Regions from separate parts of the Homo sapiens genome. Here region 1 is linked to region 2. Evidence: fine-mapped expression QTL. A gene starts in region 2. The other region holds a variant in brackets. All regions are shown on one strand. Distances are from middle to middle.

Region 1 (8,287 bases), 810 kb before region 2:
TAACAACTGTGCCTAATTAGGACAGGGTTGACACCTTGCCGAGCCTAGTGATTCTTTATGTTTTCTTGTTCGTGGTACCTCATTACCCTCCCTCCAAATTATGTCCAATTTGTTTTACATTCCTGCCACATTAAGACAATCGCTCTCAGGTGTAGGTATTTCAGCACCCACTTTGCTTTCCAAGCAAAATTGTGTTGACCAGGACTCTCCTTGTTTTCACATCCTGCTAGAGGGACAGCCCCTTGGCTGGTCTTCTGATCACATCTGCCCTGAATGAAATGACTCTGGCTTGGAGCTGGCCCCTGGTCTCTCTCATTGGTTACTGTGAAATTTCTGTGCCCTGGTCCTAGGGAGGCAGCCACAGCTACACACCAAAGTAAGAATCCTGAATTCAATGGCCTCAGTCCATTCATAAAGGCTGTGGGGTGGGAATCCATTAGTTCCATCAAGAAATGGTAAAGGGGCCAGGTGTGGTGGCTCATGCCTGTAGTCCCAGCGCTTTGGGAGGCTGAGCCCCAGGGGTTTGAGACCAGCCTGGCCAACATGGTGAAATCCCATCTGTACTAAAAATACAAAAATTATCTGGGCATGGTCTGTAGTTCCAGCTACTTGAGAGGCAGAGGTGTGAGAATCGCTTGAACCCAGGAGGCAGAGGTTGCAGTGAGCTGAAATGGTGCCAATGCACTCCAGCCGGGGCAACAGAGTGAGACCTTGTCTCAAAGAAGAAGAAAGAAGAAAGGAGAAGAAGGAGGAGAAGAGGATGGAGGAGGAAGGAGAAGGAGGAGGAGCAGGAGAAGGAGGAGGAGAAGAGGAGGAAGGAGGAAGGAGAAGTAGGGGGAGAAGAGGCGGAGAAGGAGGAGAAGAGGGAGGAGGAAGAAGGAGAAGGAGGAGGAGAAGGAGGAGAAGGAGGGGGAGAAGGAAGAAAGGAGGAGGAGGAGAATGAGGGGGAGAAGGAGGAGGAGAAGAGGAGGGAGGAAGTAGGAGAATAAGGAGAATAAGGAGAAGAAGAAGGAGAAGAAGAAGAAGAACTGGTAAAGGGTGAACTGCTAGGTGTGCTAGCTAGTGGGGCACAGTGGATCGTGAGAGTCCTAAGCTTCCAGAGAAGCAAAGCTCAGAAGAGAGTGCACAGAGTCAGGCTGAAATTTGAGCTGTCTTCCTAAATGAAAGGGTGGTCACAGAGAATCGAGAGGGGAAATATGGACTCTGGGAAGGGTAGATCAGAGAGGAGTTGTAAGAAGCCAGTGGAAGTATAAGCTTTGTGTCACAAGGGGCTGTTTCTTTTGCCTGTCATTGCCCGACTCCCATATCAACCTGAGCTGTAACAGGCAATTCTATTTGACTGACTGAATGAATGCATTAGTGCTACGAAATTCACGGATATGACTTGACAGTAAGTAGCATTAGGGTTTGGTTGCCAATTCAAGTTGTCTGTATTGGAGTTTTTCCTCCCAAGCTATTTGAAACATAAATAAGGACCGTCGGGCTCAGAAAACATTCAGACAAGAATAAAGTCTTGGAGAGAGGGTGGGGCTTCTTGGAATGGGGTTACTCTGCAGAGGGCAGTAACTGCTGGAAGAGGATCCCACCAGATTAGTAGTAATGTAATAGAAGTAATAGTACCTAAGGATGGGCAAGATACAGCCCCTATATTAGTCCATTTTCATACTGCTATGAAGAAATACCTGACACTGGGTAATTTATAATGAAAAAGAGGTTTAATGGACTCACAGTTCCACATGGCTGGGGAGGCCTCACAATCATGGCGAAAGGTGAAGGAGGAGCAAAGTCACGTCTTACATGGCAGTAGGCAAGGAGAAATGTGTGGGAGAACTGCCCTTTATAAAACCATTGGATGCTGTGACACTAATTCACTATCATGTGAACAGCACTGGAAAAACTCACCCCCATGATTCATTAACCTCCTACCAGGTCCCTCCCCTGACACGTGGGATTATGGGAGCTGCAATTCAAGATGATATTTGGGTGGGGACACAGCCAAACTGTATCAGCTCCTTTCCTCAAGTAGGTCAGAAACAAGGAGGAAAGGTCATGAAAAGCAGAGGCTTTTCACAAGGTTTCCAGTGTGGTGTCAAGAGTTTCAAGAGGATGGGTTTCAAGAGTATGGGCTGTAGCAGCTCAGGCCTGGTCTTACCACTAAACTTGAGCTGATCTGGACATACTAAAAAATAAACTTGTCTTTCAGAGCCTGGAAGCAGGACTTGTCCTTAACCAGCAAGAGCAACCTGAGGAACCAATCCTTGTCTAATTATTGGGATGAAATCAGTGTGGAGGGGGAAAATGTTCTAGTTGGGCAGTAAGATTTCAAAGCCCTACTGTGAGGTAGGAATAAAAACACCGCCTAGGATGAGAGACCCTGAAAGAACCTGTATTAATAGAGCAGGTAGAAAGAAGTGCTTGTGGGGTAAGGGGCACAATATCACCCAAAGAGTAGTTTCATTTATAAATTGGAAGGTATACTGACAGGCAATAATATATAGCTAAAAGTAACCAAAAATATAGAAGAAACCACCACCAGCACTTCCAAGAACACAATTGCCTGTGTGTGTGTGTGTGTGTGTGTGTGTGTGTGTGTGTATATATATATATAAGAGTTGGGTCCTAGCTGATGAACTACCTCTTTTTCAAGGAATTTATTCCAACGAAGGCTAACTTGAAAGAGATTCTTTCAGTAGTTTCTGGGCCCTTGGGTATGGAAGAGAGGAAAGTAATATTTATGATAAGGGTTGCTGTGAGGACTAAATGGGAACACATGCTAAGTACCAGAGAGTAGATAACAGTGTTAGAAGGAAGTGCTCTCTGGGAGCTGCTGTTCTGAGAACCAAGTTGGATGACATCACTCCAAAGCCTTCCTTCTTCATGGTCATGTTGATTTCCCATCTCAGGACCCCTCCTACTCCCGTGGGCCTACTCCATGGCACAGTGACTAGTGATGCAGGCAGCAGTCCACACATCCCTCCCATTTGTACCTCTGTATAAGAATGAGAAAACGGTTTGCTTTGTTTCCAGCACCCCTTCTGGTAAGGCGTATTTCGTTGGCCTTTTTTTTTTTTTTTTTTTTTTTTTGAGACAGAGTGTCGCTCTGTCGCCTAGGCTGGAGTGCAATGGTGTGATCTGGGCTCACTGCAACTTCCACCTCCCAGGTTCAAGCGATTCTCCTGCCTCAGCCTCCTGAGTAGCTGGGATTACAGGTGTGCACCACCACACCAGCTAATTTTTGTATTTTTAGTAGAGATGGGGTTTCACTATGTTGGCCAGGCTGGTCTCGAACTCCTGACCTCCTGATCTGCCTGCCTCAGCCTCCCAAAGTGCTGGGATTACAGGTGTGAGCCACCATGCCTGACCTTTGTTGGCCTTCTTATCTGCAATAGCACACTTAGGGAGAGGTCTTCACACAAGAACATTACGTAACTGTGTATGTGTTTCGTGGGCCCTGTCCTTGGCAGACCCTGGCTCTCTCTAGCACTTTCTGGTTGGTCAAGGCTGTAAACAGCACAACAGCCTCACAAAATACTCCTAAGTAGGACCAAAATGTGGAAATCTTCACTGTGTCCCAAATGCATATAGGTTGTGAGGTAGCCATTGACCACCCACTGAGTGTGTCACTGGCTGTTCTTTACCTGTGGAAGAATAAAGACTGATGTGCCAACCTTCAAAGAAACTTGGATGTCCTAAATGTCTTGGAAGAGTCCCACAGTCCCTTTCCTGTGCAGAATTGCCATTTTCAGTCCCGTCATTGTAAGCAAAGCAGAGATTTCACTTTCCTAAATGTTGCCCCTGAAACAGCTCATCTGCCATTTTTTGGTTGGTTCTCAGGGCTCTTGACATTCTGCTCAATCCAAACCCATGTTTCTTTTTTAGCGGAGCTTTCCACTACTTCCAAGAAAATTAGTCTGAGCACTCTCAGTCTCACCCTGGCTCTGCTGCCATCACTGTCACCACTCCGGGTTCTCCGCCTGGAGTGGACAGGAAGAAAAAGGAAAGGTACAGAATCAATGCTGGGGGTCACGGCCATGAAGCAGCAGCTTAGGCAACCCTAATCTCCTCTCATCCCCCCTTCTTCCACTCCTGCTTCTAGGGTAGACTATTTCTCATGATATCGTTTAGGGCAGTATGTTTTTCCACAGTTGTCTCCTACAGAGATTCAACTTCTTCCCAGTCAGGCCCTTGGAGCCAGACAGATTGACTACATTCTTTCCCACCAGAATCCCCTGGAACCTCCAGCTGCCCACTGAATCCCCTTCCCGGCAGCCCCACTGCCTGACCTGATTCTGACCCAGCCCTGAGTTTGAGCTGTTGGGATTTTTGGCTCCAGTCCAGTTCCCACACTCTTAGATAATAAGGGTGTCCTCTTCATCTATCCATTTGCCCTTGTGTGTGGTAGCATGGAGCACATATTAGGCTTCTGGGGAATATTTGCTGAATAAAGAACACAAGAAAAATAACATGAAACATTTAAGCTTCTCAAAACACTTTTTAATTCTCCATTTTTCCCATCAAGACCAAAGTTGTACAAACAGGTACAAAATCCCCCACCTTCAGGGTGTGAGGCATCACTGTGTGTGGTCAAAGTCCCATCTCCTCCCCTTTCCCTTTCCACGAGTTTTCAAGATGTGGCCCAGTCAGTGCATTGCTGCCTTCTATGACCTATGAACCATGGGCAGCAAGAGGACTGGTGACCGGGGGACATGGTGAGGTCCAGTGTGCCAGGAACATGGTAAGTGCCCACATTGCGGGGGAGGGAACAATTCAGAGACAGGCTCAGCTGGAGGCCGCACAGAGGAGAAATGTCACTCTGTCCCATCTTCCCTGCATTCAGCTGAGCTCAGACCAAGTGAGCACCTAAGAATCATTTACCCCCAAAGGATGTTTCAAGTGAGATGCAATGTTCTCTAACCATTATTCTCTCAGAAATTAGGGGTGGCGGGGCGGGAATCAAGCAGATGTTTGAATTGCCTTTCATTCCTCCATAGTTGTCTAATTGTCTGGCTCTTGGTTTTTATACAGCAGAAATAAAACAAAATGGCAATAAACCAACCTACAACCTGTGTACAAGATACAGCATACAAAACTGTCCCAGGGACTGGGATCAAAAGACTTCTATTCCTAGCCCTAAATTAGAGGTTCTGTTTTGGTTAGGGAAGTTTGTTGTAAA[C/G]AGCAGCTGAGAAGCCATTTATTTGATTTTGGCAATAGAGACAGACAGCAATGCACATACACTTATTTCATTGAACTGTAAACGGATAAGGTCAGGAGAGGAAAAACCCTACTGTTTATGTAATAGAACCCTACTAAATGGTTTTGGAAGGGACTAAAAGTTAGGTAGCAGCCTACTTTCCTACTTTCCAAGGCTGGAATTATATATATATTGAGTAATAAATCAAATATTAGTAATCCATCCACTTGTTTTTCAGAGTCCAACAATTTGATACCACCTTCCTCCCTATCCCACCCTAGTCCCGTTAGATTTGACTGCATTAAAGTAGTTGTTCAACCAAAACACTCTGTACTGTCGCCTTCCTTTAGCATTTATATGAAAAGCCAAAACCAGAGAGAAAGAATCCTTACACCTCCTCTCCACTAAAGTATCACTGTAGAGAAAACTAAGCTCAGAATATACTCAATAACATACCAAGGAAAAAAGTGAGTGTGACTGAGGGGACCCCCGTCACCAACCGCAGTACGCCCTGCTAAACGGTAGTTATCTTCTTGTCCTTGGTGGCTTGCTTGATGGCAGCCTGCTCGCAGATGATCTCTTTGAGCCTCTGCAGCCTCGTGTTCTGGGTGGTCAGTTCCCCCACCCCAGTCTGGCTGCGGTGCAGCAGGGTCAGAGCGTGGATGTACTCCAGCTCCGTGTACTTCACACCCTGGTCCACCACCAGGTTCAGGAGCTCGTCAGCTGTGTTGTAAAGCATCTCGTAGTACTGCCTGAGAAAGCAAGAGAGAACACTGCTCACTGGCTCCCCACTGGTAACGTCGTCTCGAGGGGACAAATACGCTGTCTATACATTGATTCCTCTACTTACTTCATAACGATTGATCAGCAGGCAGTGTTCTAGGCCCCACCAACAGAATAAAGAACAGGACAACCATAAGCTCTGTCCTTTGGAGCTCATGGGAGCTCTCTTCAGGAGAAGTCTAAGTGAGGACCCAGGGAGGCCGCATACCTTTCTGTGGCTCAGCTCATTCTACATTTTTTTGCTAATTTTGCATTTACCTTGGGAGAAAGGAAAGAAAAGTAGGGGTATAGCCTGAAGAAGGAGAGAAGGCATTGTTAACAGGTTTTGTCTCATTCAATCCCTCATTCATTCATTATTCATTGGAGGTTTTGTAAAATACTGTACATGGTTTTCTGCTCCATAAAGTGGGTTAATAATAGTACCTACCTCTTGGGGTTATTGAAATAGTTGAATTAATTAATACGTATAAAGCACTCAGAATGGTGGTGCTTCATAAAGATTATTATTATTAGAACTATAATGATGCTAATGTGTGACAGTAATGTAATAAAATTAATAGTAGTATATAAGGATGGGCAAGACACAGCCCCTTTCCTCAAGTAGCTCGGAGACAAGGAGGAAAGGTCCTGAAAAGCAGAGACATAAGGATTCCAGTGCTGTTGACCAAGTTCATTCCCGAGCACTGTGCCACTTACCCCTCACTCCACCCAGGGGCTACACCTCCCTTTTCCCAGATACAAAGACGAAAGCACAGAGAAGTTAGAGGGCTTGCCCACATCACAAAGACAGGGACTGACCATGCCAGGATCTGACCCCAGGTTTCTGACTCTAAGTTCAAGACTGTTTTTTCACGGACACTTGACAACTCACAAGAATATTCTGTGTGCCATAAGTGAGGTCCTAGTACCGTGCGTTAATAGCAGAGGAGGAGAAATCGCACCATGCTGAGGGGATGGTGTGGGACTGAGGAAGACTTCCTGTGGGGTAAGATTCTGTCAGGCAGGGCTTCCAGGAAAGAAATTCTAGTTGGAGGGAAGAGCATGAGCAAAGGCATGGAAGAATAATCTGGTTAGACTGGGGAGTGCAGAGCAATAGCAGAGAGTCCTGGGATGAGGCATTTGAAGCCACAGGGTAGAGCCTCTGAACATCAGGCTATGATTTTAGACCTAGTTAAGCCAATAAAGGACTTCCTTCTTCCAGAGAGCAGAGGTGCCATTCAAAATTGTGCTTCTGGAAGATTACTGTGACAATCAAACGCAGAATGGTCTGGCAGGGCATTGGTTACAATTCTAGCAGAAAGAGGAGACTTGAGAGCCACTTAACGGCAAGGCCATTGGCCTGGCTCTGTCCTTTGGTGGAGGAAGACTTGTGCCTGTAATAGAAATATGCATTATAGGGATTCTTCAATGCAGCAGGAAGATGAAGGTGGGAGTCAGGAAGGGGAGAAGATGACCACTCACCATTCTTTAAACCAATACTATGCCACTGCTATCTCTCAGTCTACTGGACTCTGAAGCTGTGACTTCCATGGCCACTCCAAATTACCCAGGAGGTCAAGTTCAACACAGACTCTGAGCCAGGAAGGCTTATCACAGCTTGTCAGCAAAATGAAGAGTGTTACTCACTTCTCTCTGACGTGAAAGGTAACTTTGCCAAGATCGAGGGGACAGAACCAGGCAGTGCACTCAAGGCAACTCTTGGAGACGAAGCAATCTTCCAGACCTAGCAGGATGAGTGGCTCAGAAATCCTGTATTATTAGACTCAGGGCCGTGAATTTGTTTCTTTCTCATCAGGAACATTTTGAAAAAAAGAACCTCCTATGGGGAAATGAAGCTATCTTTGTGGTAAGAAATACATTCTAGGAGCTCCATAATTTCAGGCCTGTTTTATTGAATTGCTGGTACAAGGGGAATGTGGTCAGGAAGAGTTGTGGTGTCTTTTCACACGGTTAGCTTCTTTTCCTCCTGCTAAGCCTCCTTTTCTAACTAACACACTCTTTTAAAAATAGGGGAGAGAATAATCTTTTGTGAATATACTCTAAATAGTGGCAGAAATGGAAAGTGCTCTTTGTAGATTGGTAAGTTAATGAAGCTCTCCTGCAAGCAAATCAGTCAGCATCCTTGTGTACAGGGGGCTAATTTTCTATAGTGGTTTTAAACGAGTGTTCATTTTGGCATCACAGAACCAGACACATAGCAATCACTGGTCCAGGGTGACCCTGAATATAGACAGAAATACTTGGTAGAAGGGGAGATAAAACTCCACTTCCAGGGGTGTGAGACCCCAGTGCCAGATCAGTAAATCTTTTGAA
Region 2 (8,275 bases):
CTACTAAAAATACAAAACATTAGTCGGGTATGGTGGCGCATGCCTGTAGTCCCAGCTACTCGGGAGGTTGAGGCAGGAGAATGGTGTGAACCCGGAAGGCGGAGCTTGCAGTGAGCCAAGATTGCGCCACTGCACTCCAGCCTGGGCGACAGAGAGAGACTCCAGGACTACGTCTCAAAAAAAAAAAAAGGAATAATGAATACAATGTTGCAAGAAGGGAAACACAAAGGACATAAATTGAACAGAAATACAAGAAGCAACTTCCAAGTGACAGCACAATTTACTAACAAGAAACATACATTCCTGGTTCTCTTACCCGCAGGACTCTCCCCCCATTCCCCATCCCAAACACCAAAGTAATACTTCCATTGTCCTCTCATTCACTACCACTGTTTATAAAATTTAAACCACTGGGTATGTTCAAAAGCATATTAGGAAGGAAATAACAGGAAGTTATAGCTACCAACATCCTCACTCCAACACCAAAATCTCCCTGTGACTCAAAGAAATGTTGAAATACAAACACCAACACCATTCGGTCTTAAGGTCATATATAACAATGCATCCCAAGCCTTAATAAACTTGCCCAGGATACTAGGTCTAGACATTCCCTTACACCATGCTTGTAAAAACTATATCACAAAAGTGTTATGCAGTGATCTGAGGTGGTCAAGGATAAAGTAGAAAAATGAGGGCTGGGCACGGTGGTTCATGCCTGTAATCCCAGCATTTTGGGAGGCCAAGGCAGGCAGACAACAAGGTCAAGCGATCGAGACCATCCTGGCCAATATGGTGAAACCCTGTATCTACCAAAAATACAAAAATTAGGTGGGTGTGGTGGCGCACGCCTATAATCCCAGCTATGCGGGAAGCTGAAGCAGAAGAATCACTTGAACCTGGGAGGCGGAGGTTGCAGTGAGCCGAGATCGCGCCACTGCACTCCAGCCTGGGGACAGAGCAAGACTCTGTCTCAAAAAAAAAGAAAAGAAAAGAAAAGAAAAGCAATATAATGCACAACAGAGATCAAAGTAAAAAATACCTAGGCCTAAATCACAGTGATAAAATGAAGGTCATATATTAATAAACTGGCATAAGAGATGGATGGATAACCACAAAATCTTAGCCATCAAGCAGTAGGGGGTTCCTCCTGGAGAATATTAAGGAATGGTCAAGCAAAGGCAATGTATGTTCTGAATTAGCATTAGTAAAAAAAGCTTTAGGTTGGCTTTCATGCTGTTTTCAAAAATATGACATTTAGAGTAAATTCAACTGGCCCTGAGGAAAATACAAATAGCATAAAAGAAATGGGAACAGCCTGGAGAATCAAAAGTACACAGATGAGATGACACATTTCACTTTCATTAGAAACAGCCACTCCTCCTGGATTTCCATAACATTTCATGTCTCTCTCGTAGTCTTATGTCATCATTTTTACTGACATGTTTTATCCCCCAGGTAAACTATACTCTCCTCAAGGGTAACACTGTGCCTGCTTCATCTTTGCAAAACTCAGGGCATTTACTCATTAAGTCAACAAATATTATTCAATATGTAATACGTGCCAGACGCCATACTGTCAACTGGCACTAAATACCTATTGTTTAAATAAATGTTGACTATAAGGTAGAAAAAACAAACAAGTTCAAAAAAGGATCCAAATAATGTCCTGGTATTCTAATTCCACAGGAAATTCAGATGGGAAACAACAAACATTCTTATTGGAATTTTAGTATCATGAGATACATCTACACTACCTGCGTATTGTCACAGCGAGAATGTGGGCCTATAGATTCACAATACAACAGCACTTCCTCTGTATGGCCTACCAAGTATATTAAGCATTTCCACACAGAGATGTTTTTCTCTTAAGCCCAAAAGAAAATTAAAGTAATGATTTAATAGGCCATAATCTTAAAGCCTCCTAAATAAGACCCATAAGATGTGTCTTTGTCAGTGAGTGGTAAGCTGTTCTAATGGTTTGATACATGCATTCATTGAAGTGCTTAGTACCTACCAGATAATGTTGGGCCCTGGGTTTTGAAAAGATGATCAATACATTCCAGAAAACTTGCAAGAACTCAAACAAAAGTTTAGTATAGGTGGGGAAAAATAGAGTGTTTGTTTATGAAAAATAAACGAGTTGAAATTCAAATGCCAACAACGTAAAAAACGTGCCATAATAAATTTTATTTAGATTGGTTTTAGTCAGTACCTGCATCATATCCAAGATTCTTGAAAGGGTTCCCCCATCCTCAATATATTTCGCTTTTTTAAAAAAAAGCTCCTAAAAGATCCACCGCTCCCACTCCACCCCCACCCTAATCTTCTGGGAGGTGCAGAGGGGCAGTGCATGGAGGATAATTTGAAATTGGTTTGGTTCTGTTTTTTAAGGAATGGACCAGAATGCGGAGGCAGGGCAAAAAATTGAAAACCGATGTGTGCCTTCAAACCCAGTCCTCCTACCAGCTCACTGCAGATTCTTGTATTTGTGGCTGTGGCCACGCACAGGTGGTTGAAAGTATCCAGAGTGTGAAAACACAAATCTGCAACTCGTGACAGGAATCTCCGGACTCCAAGGCCTTACACCCCAAAGTCCAGGAAACAAGACGCCTTTCTCAGTGAGTGCTGCTACAGGCAAACAATAAACAAGCATTTTAGGAATCAATAAACACACCTTTACACCTGGTTTTCTCTACCAAACCCAAATAGCGTGCTTTGGGGTCCCGAGACTGTAATAGAAGGTGCTGCCCCTAAAGAAAAGACTGAGGCGGGGCTCCTCTCTCTATAGCTAACCCCAGAAAAAAAAGGTGGAGGGGGAATTGCTGGGGCCCTGGGGAGGGGTTAGAGCCCTGGGGAGGGGCTGCGGGAGGCAAGGAGGAAAGGGGAGAGCAGGGTGGGACCCAGCTAACCCTTCTCCCTTCCAAAGCGGAGGTCGAGCCGCTGCCCCCAGTCCCCAGACCCTGCCTCCTGCCTCCCTCACCTGATCACAGAGATGAGCAGCCCCGAGGGGTCTTTGCTTTTGCTGACTGTGCTTCTGTATTTCCCACCAGCTGCTTCTGCCGCCATCTTGGACGCGGGGAGAGCCGCTAGGCTCCAAGGAAGCCAAGGGTGCGTAAATTCTGTATTTGACCCCGCAGGAGTCTCCACCAATGGGTGAAGAGAATTCCAGAGGCGCGGAAGTGGAAAATCCAATCACTGAAGTGAGGAGGCGGGACTAAGGGAGCAAGTTTTGAGGCCACGACGCGCGTGTTCTCTCTAAGCACTCTGGGAGTCGTAGTTTTCCTTCTCCGTCTCCTGGGCGCGCAGGAAAGCTAAACCAGCTGCAACTTCCTAAGTCTTGTAATGAGTGTCTTCATTTATCTTTATTCTGACTTCCAGCTTTTTTCAGTTTCCTTGCTTTTAGAATTTTGTCAGGCTTTAAATCAAATTTATCTGATGATGCCAAAATGTGTTAGGGTTTGTATTTAAATGAAAGAGGGGTTCTCTGCCGGATGTCTATGTGCGAAGTTTTTGCCTTAAGTGCAAGTGATTTTTTAAAAAATCCAATAAAATACGAAAATGAATATAAGCAGAAATGCTTTTCTTTAGTATTCTGTAAAACTAATGTTTCTACATTAGGTTTATGTGGAGTTCAATTTTTCCCAATGTTCCTATATTTCCAGATAGTTCTAAAACCACACGTACAGGAATAAATGAATATTGATGAAGAAAAGACAGTATAAGCTAAAAACAAACAGACCACACTGCAGATTCCTTTTTTTTTTTTTTCAAGCTAAATGAAATACTTAGTAGTAATGCACATTTGTGTTAATACTTTTACCGGTAAGTTTTTAGTATTTCCTGCATTTGGTTCCGTTGGCTTAGTCATTAATTCATAAGACCAAATGAACAAAACAAAACAAAAAAGACCAGAATGTGCGTGGAAAGTGGTTAGACTGAGGAACAAGAATAATAATAATTTAAAAGTAAGGAAGGAGGTGGCCTGCTCAGTAGCAATAAAGATTGAAGAACTTAAAGGAATAGAAAGCAAACTAACTCAGAGGTCATGGAGTTGTGAGCAGCAAGCTCAGAACACATCAATTACTTTTATTAAATAGACATCGAGCTGGTAGAAGTTCACATTTTTAAAAATTAGTTGAAGATAACACACACACACACACACACACGATAACTTAAAAGTATTCATAACCTTTGGCCCAATAATTCCAGTTCTAGGGACTTTGTTCCTAAAGAAATATAGAGTATTGACATTTTTTAAATAACACAGAAGAATTAAATAAATTATGTAACATTCAAATGAGGAAATAACATATAGCTTCTGGAAATCATAATTTTAATGGCTTTTAAAGAAAATAAGATTTTTGGGCCAAGTGTGATGGCTCACACCTGTAATCCCAACACTTTTTGAGAGGCAGAGCCGAGCAGACCACTTGAGGCCAGGAGTTTAAGACAAGCCTGGCCAACATGGTGAAACTCCGTCTCTACTAAAAATGCAAAAGTTAGCCGGACCGTGGTGGTGTGTGCCTGTAATCCCAGCTGCTTGGGAGGCTGAGGCATGAGAATTGCTTGAACCTAGAAGGCGGAGGCTGCAGTGAGCCAAGATCGTTCCACTGCACACTGCACGCCAGCCTGGGCAACAGAGGGAAACTCTGTCTCAAAAAAAAAAAAAAAAAAAAGATTTTTATGGTATAAGTACAAAAACTGGGCTATAAAATTAAATAATTCATAGAGAAAGGGAGAGGCAGTTGGGCCTAGTGGTTAAGAATGCAGGACAGGCCGGGCGCCGGGTGGCTCATGCCTGTAATCCCAGCACTTTGGGAGGCCGAGGCGGGCGGATCACGAGGTCAGGAGATCAAGACCATCCTGGCTAACACGGTGAAACCCTGTATCTACTAAAAAAAAATACAAAAAATTAGCCGGGCGTGTTGGCGGGCGCCTGTAGTCCCAGCTACTCGGGAGCCTGAGTCAGGAGAATGGCGTGAACCCGGGAGGTGGAGCTTGCAGTGAGTCGAGATCGCGCCACTGCACTCCAGCCTGGGCGACAGAGCAAGACTCTGTCTCAAAAAAAAAAAAAAAAAAAAAAAAGAATGTAGGACATAGGATAAAAAGTGTGTGATCATCTCAACTGTTGCAGAAAAAAGCTTTGTCAAAATCCAAAACACTCTTACAATAAAAACACTCAGAAAACTAGGGATAAAAGGGAACTTCTTATAGGCTATAAAGGGTACTTATGAACAACCCACAGCAATCATCATAGTCGATGAAAAACTGAAAGCCTTCCCACTAATATTAGACACAAAAAAAGGATAACCATTTTTTTGCCACTTCTATTCAACAAAGTACTGCAAGTTATAGCCAGAGCAATGAGGCAAGAACATGAATAAGTCATCCAGATTGGAAAGGAAGAAATAAAACAATATCTATTTTTGGATGATATGATCTTATATATAGAATATCCTAGAGAATACACACAAAAAACTATTAGAGCTAATAAAATATTCAGCAAAGTTGCAGAATACAAAATCAATAGCAACAGAAAATCAGTGGTATTTCTGTAAACTGGCAATAAACTATCCAAAAAGGAAATTTACACAACAATTCCATTTCCAATAGCAGCAAAAAGAATAAAATGCCTACGAATAAACTTAGCCATGAAAGTGAAAGACTGCTACACTGAAAGCTACAAAACATTGCTGCAAGAAATACAAGAAGACTCAAATAAATGGAAAGACATCCATGTTCATGGGTTGGAAAACTCAATATTGTTAAGATGGCCAAACTCCCAAAGCTATCTACAAATTCAATGTAATTCCGATAAAAATTCACTAGGCTTTTTGTGCAGAAACAGAAAAACTGATCCTGAAATTCATACGGAAATTAAAAGAGCCCCAAATAGCCAAAGCAATCTTGGAAAAAAAAAAAAATCAATGTGGAGGTCTCACACTTCCTGATTTCAAAACTTACTAAAAATCCGCAGTAATCAAAATAGCATGGTACTTGCATAAAAATAAACACATAGATAAATATAGTAGAATAAGCCATACAGAAATAAGCCTATTCATCTATGATCAATTGATTTTCTTTTTTTTTTTTTTTAGACGAAGTCTCTTTCTGTCACCCAGGCTGGAGTGCAGTGGCTCAATCTCAGCTCACTGTAACCTCTGACTCCCAGGTTCAAGCAATTCTTGTGCCTCAGCCTTCCAAGTAGTAGACACGGGGTTTTGCCATGTTGGCCAGGCTGTTCTTGAACTCCTGACCTCAGGTGATCTGCCCACCTCAGCCTCCCAAAGTGCTGGGATTACAGGCATGACCCACCGCACCCAAACAGTCAATTGATTTTCAACAAAGCTGACAGTACCATTCAATAAGGAAAGAATAGTCTCCTCAATAGATGGTGTTGAAAACTGGATAAGCATAAGCAAAAAAGTGAAGATGGACCCTACCTCATACAATATGCAAAAATTAACTAAAAGTGGATCAAAGACCTAAATATGAGATAAAACTCTTAGAACAAAATACAAGGGTAAATTTTCATGATTCTTAGCTATGACATCAAAAGCATAAGCAACAAAAGAAAAAATAGGTATATTGGGCTTTATTAAAATTAAAAACCCTCATACATCAAAGTACACTTTTCAAGAAAGTGAAAAGACAGGCACAGGATGGGAGAGAATAAAAGCAAATCACATACAGTATCTGGTAAGAGTTCTGTATCTAGACTATGTGAAGAACTCTTACAACTCAACACAAAAGGAAATAAAAATTAAAACCTAGGCAATGGATGTGAATAGACATTTCTCCAAAGAAGATACACAAATGGCCAAAAAGCACATAAAAAGATGCTCGACATCATTAATCATTATAGGAAAATGCAAAACCATAATGAGATACCACTTCACACCCACTAGGTTGGTTACAATTTTTTTAATGGAAAATAAATGTTGGCAAGTATGTGGAGAAACTGGAACCCTTGTACATTTATTTTGGGAATGTGAAATGGTTCAGCCATTGCAGAAAACAATTTGGTGGTTCCTTAAAAAACTAAACATAAAGTTACCATATGACCCAGCAATTCCGCTCATAGGTATATGCACAAGAGAATTGAAAACAAGTGTTCGGAAAATAACTTGTATACAAACATTCATAAAAGCACCATTCAAAATAGCCTAAAGGTGGAAGCAGTCCAAATGTTTAACAATGAATGAACTGCAACAATATGACTGTATCAGTGTGGTATAAACAAAATGTGCTATATCCATACAATGTAATATTATTCACACATAAAAATGAAAAAAGTACTGATATATGCTACAATATTGATAAATCTTGAAATCATGCTAACAGAAAAAAGCCAGACACAAAAGGCCATATTGTGTATAACCCCATTTATCTGAAATATCCAGAACAGACAAATTCATAGAGACAGAAAGCAGATCAGTGGTTGCCAAGGGCTGCAGGGCAGGAAGAAATGAGGAATGACTGCTCAATGGATACAGAGTTTCATTTTGGAGTGATGAAATGTTCTGGAACTACAGTCAATGGTTGCATAGCTTGTGAATGTATTAAAGGTCAGTAAATTATAAACTTTAAAGTAGTCAAAAGTCATAAATTTTATGTTATGTGTTTTTCACCACACCTTAAAAAAAAATGCAGTTTGTGTAGCAGGATGGCCTAGATTCAATCCCAGCTTTCCACTTCCTGGCTAGATTACCTAGGACAAGTTACTTAACTTTACTCTGCCTCAGTTTCTTTATCTGTAAAGCAGGTGGTCATTGTACTTCACATAGAGAGTTATTGTAAGAATATGTGAGATATACATTATCAGCACTTGGTAAATATCAGCTATTATTACTAAAGTATGGTACTAATTTTGTTGAAAATACATCTCTGGGGTTATTGCAAAGTTGTTTTGAGCGTCAATAACATGGGTAATTTTTTTTTTTTTTTTTACACTTTTCTGTGTTTTACAAAGTTTCCGGGATGGGCACAGTGGCTCATGCCTGTAATCCCAGCACTTTGGGAGGCCGAGGCAGGTGGATCACCTGAGGTTAGGAGTTCGAGACCAGCCTGGCCAACATGGCAAAACCCCGTCTCTACTAAAAACATAAAAACTAGTGGGGCGTGTTGGCAAGCTCCTGTAATCCCAGCTGCTCTGGGGGCTGAGGCAGGAGAATTGCTTGAACCAGGGAGGCGGATGTTGCAGTCAGCCAAGATTGTGCCACTGCACTCCAGCCTGGGTGACAGAAGGAGACTCCATCTAAAAAAAAAAAAAAAA

Evidence for each region.
Region 1: its variant is fine-mapped to the expression of EXOC4 in lung (TOPMed, PIP above 0.99). The same link has a PIP of 0.9 or more in thyroid and whole blood.

Annotation. Positions count from the first base shown.
Region 1 is chr7:134,061,947-134,070,233 of GRCh38, reverse strand. It overlaps EXOC4 (exocyst complex component 4), which reads right to left. Exons shown (of 18, transcript NM_021807.4): 18 at 4,473-5,943. The coding sequence ends at 5,706. Among named protein-coding and RNA genes, the nearest start is that of LRGUK, 61 kb to the left of the region's middle. The variant C/G (reference allele first, on the strand shown) is at 5,174.
Region 2 is chr7:133,247,893-133,256,167 of GRCh38, reverse strand. It overlaps EXOC4 (exocyst complex component 4), which reads right to left and starts at 3,090. Exons shown (of 18, transcript NM_021807.4): 1 at 2,981-3,090. The coding sequence starts at 3,066. RefSeq lists enhancers at 3,004-3,063, 3,274-3,323.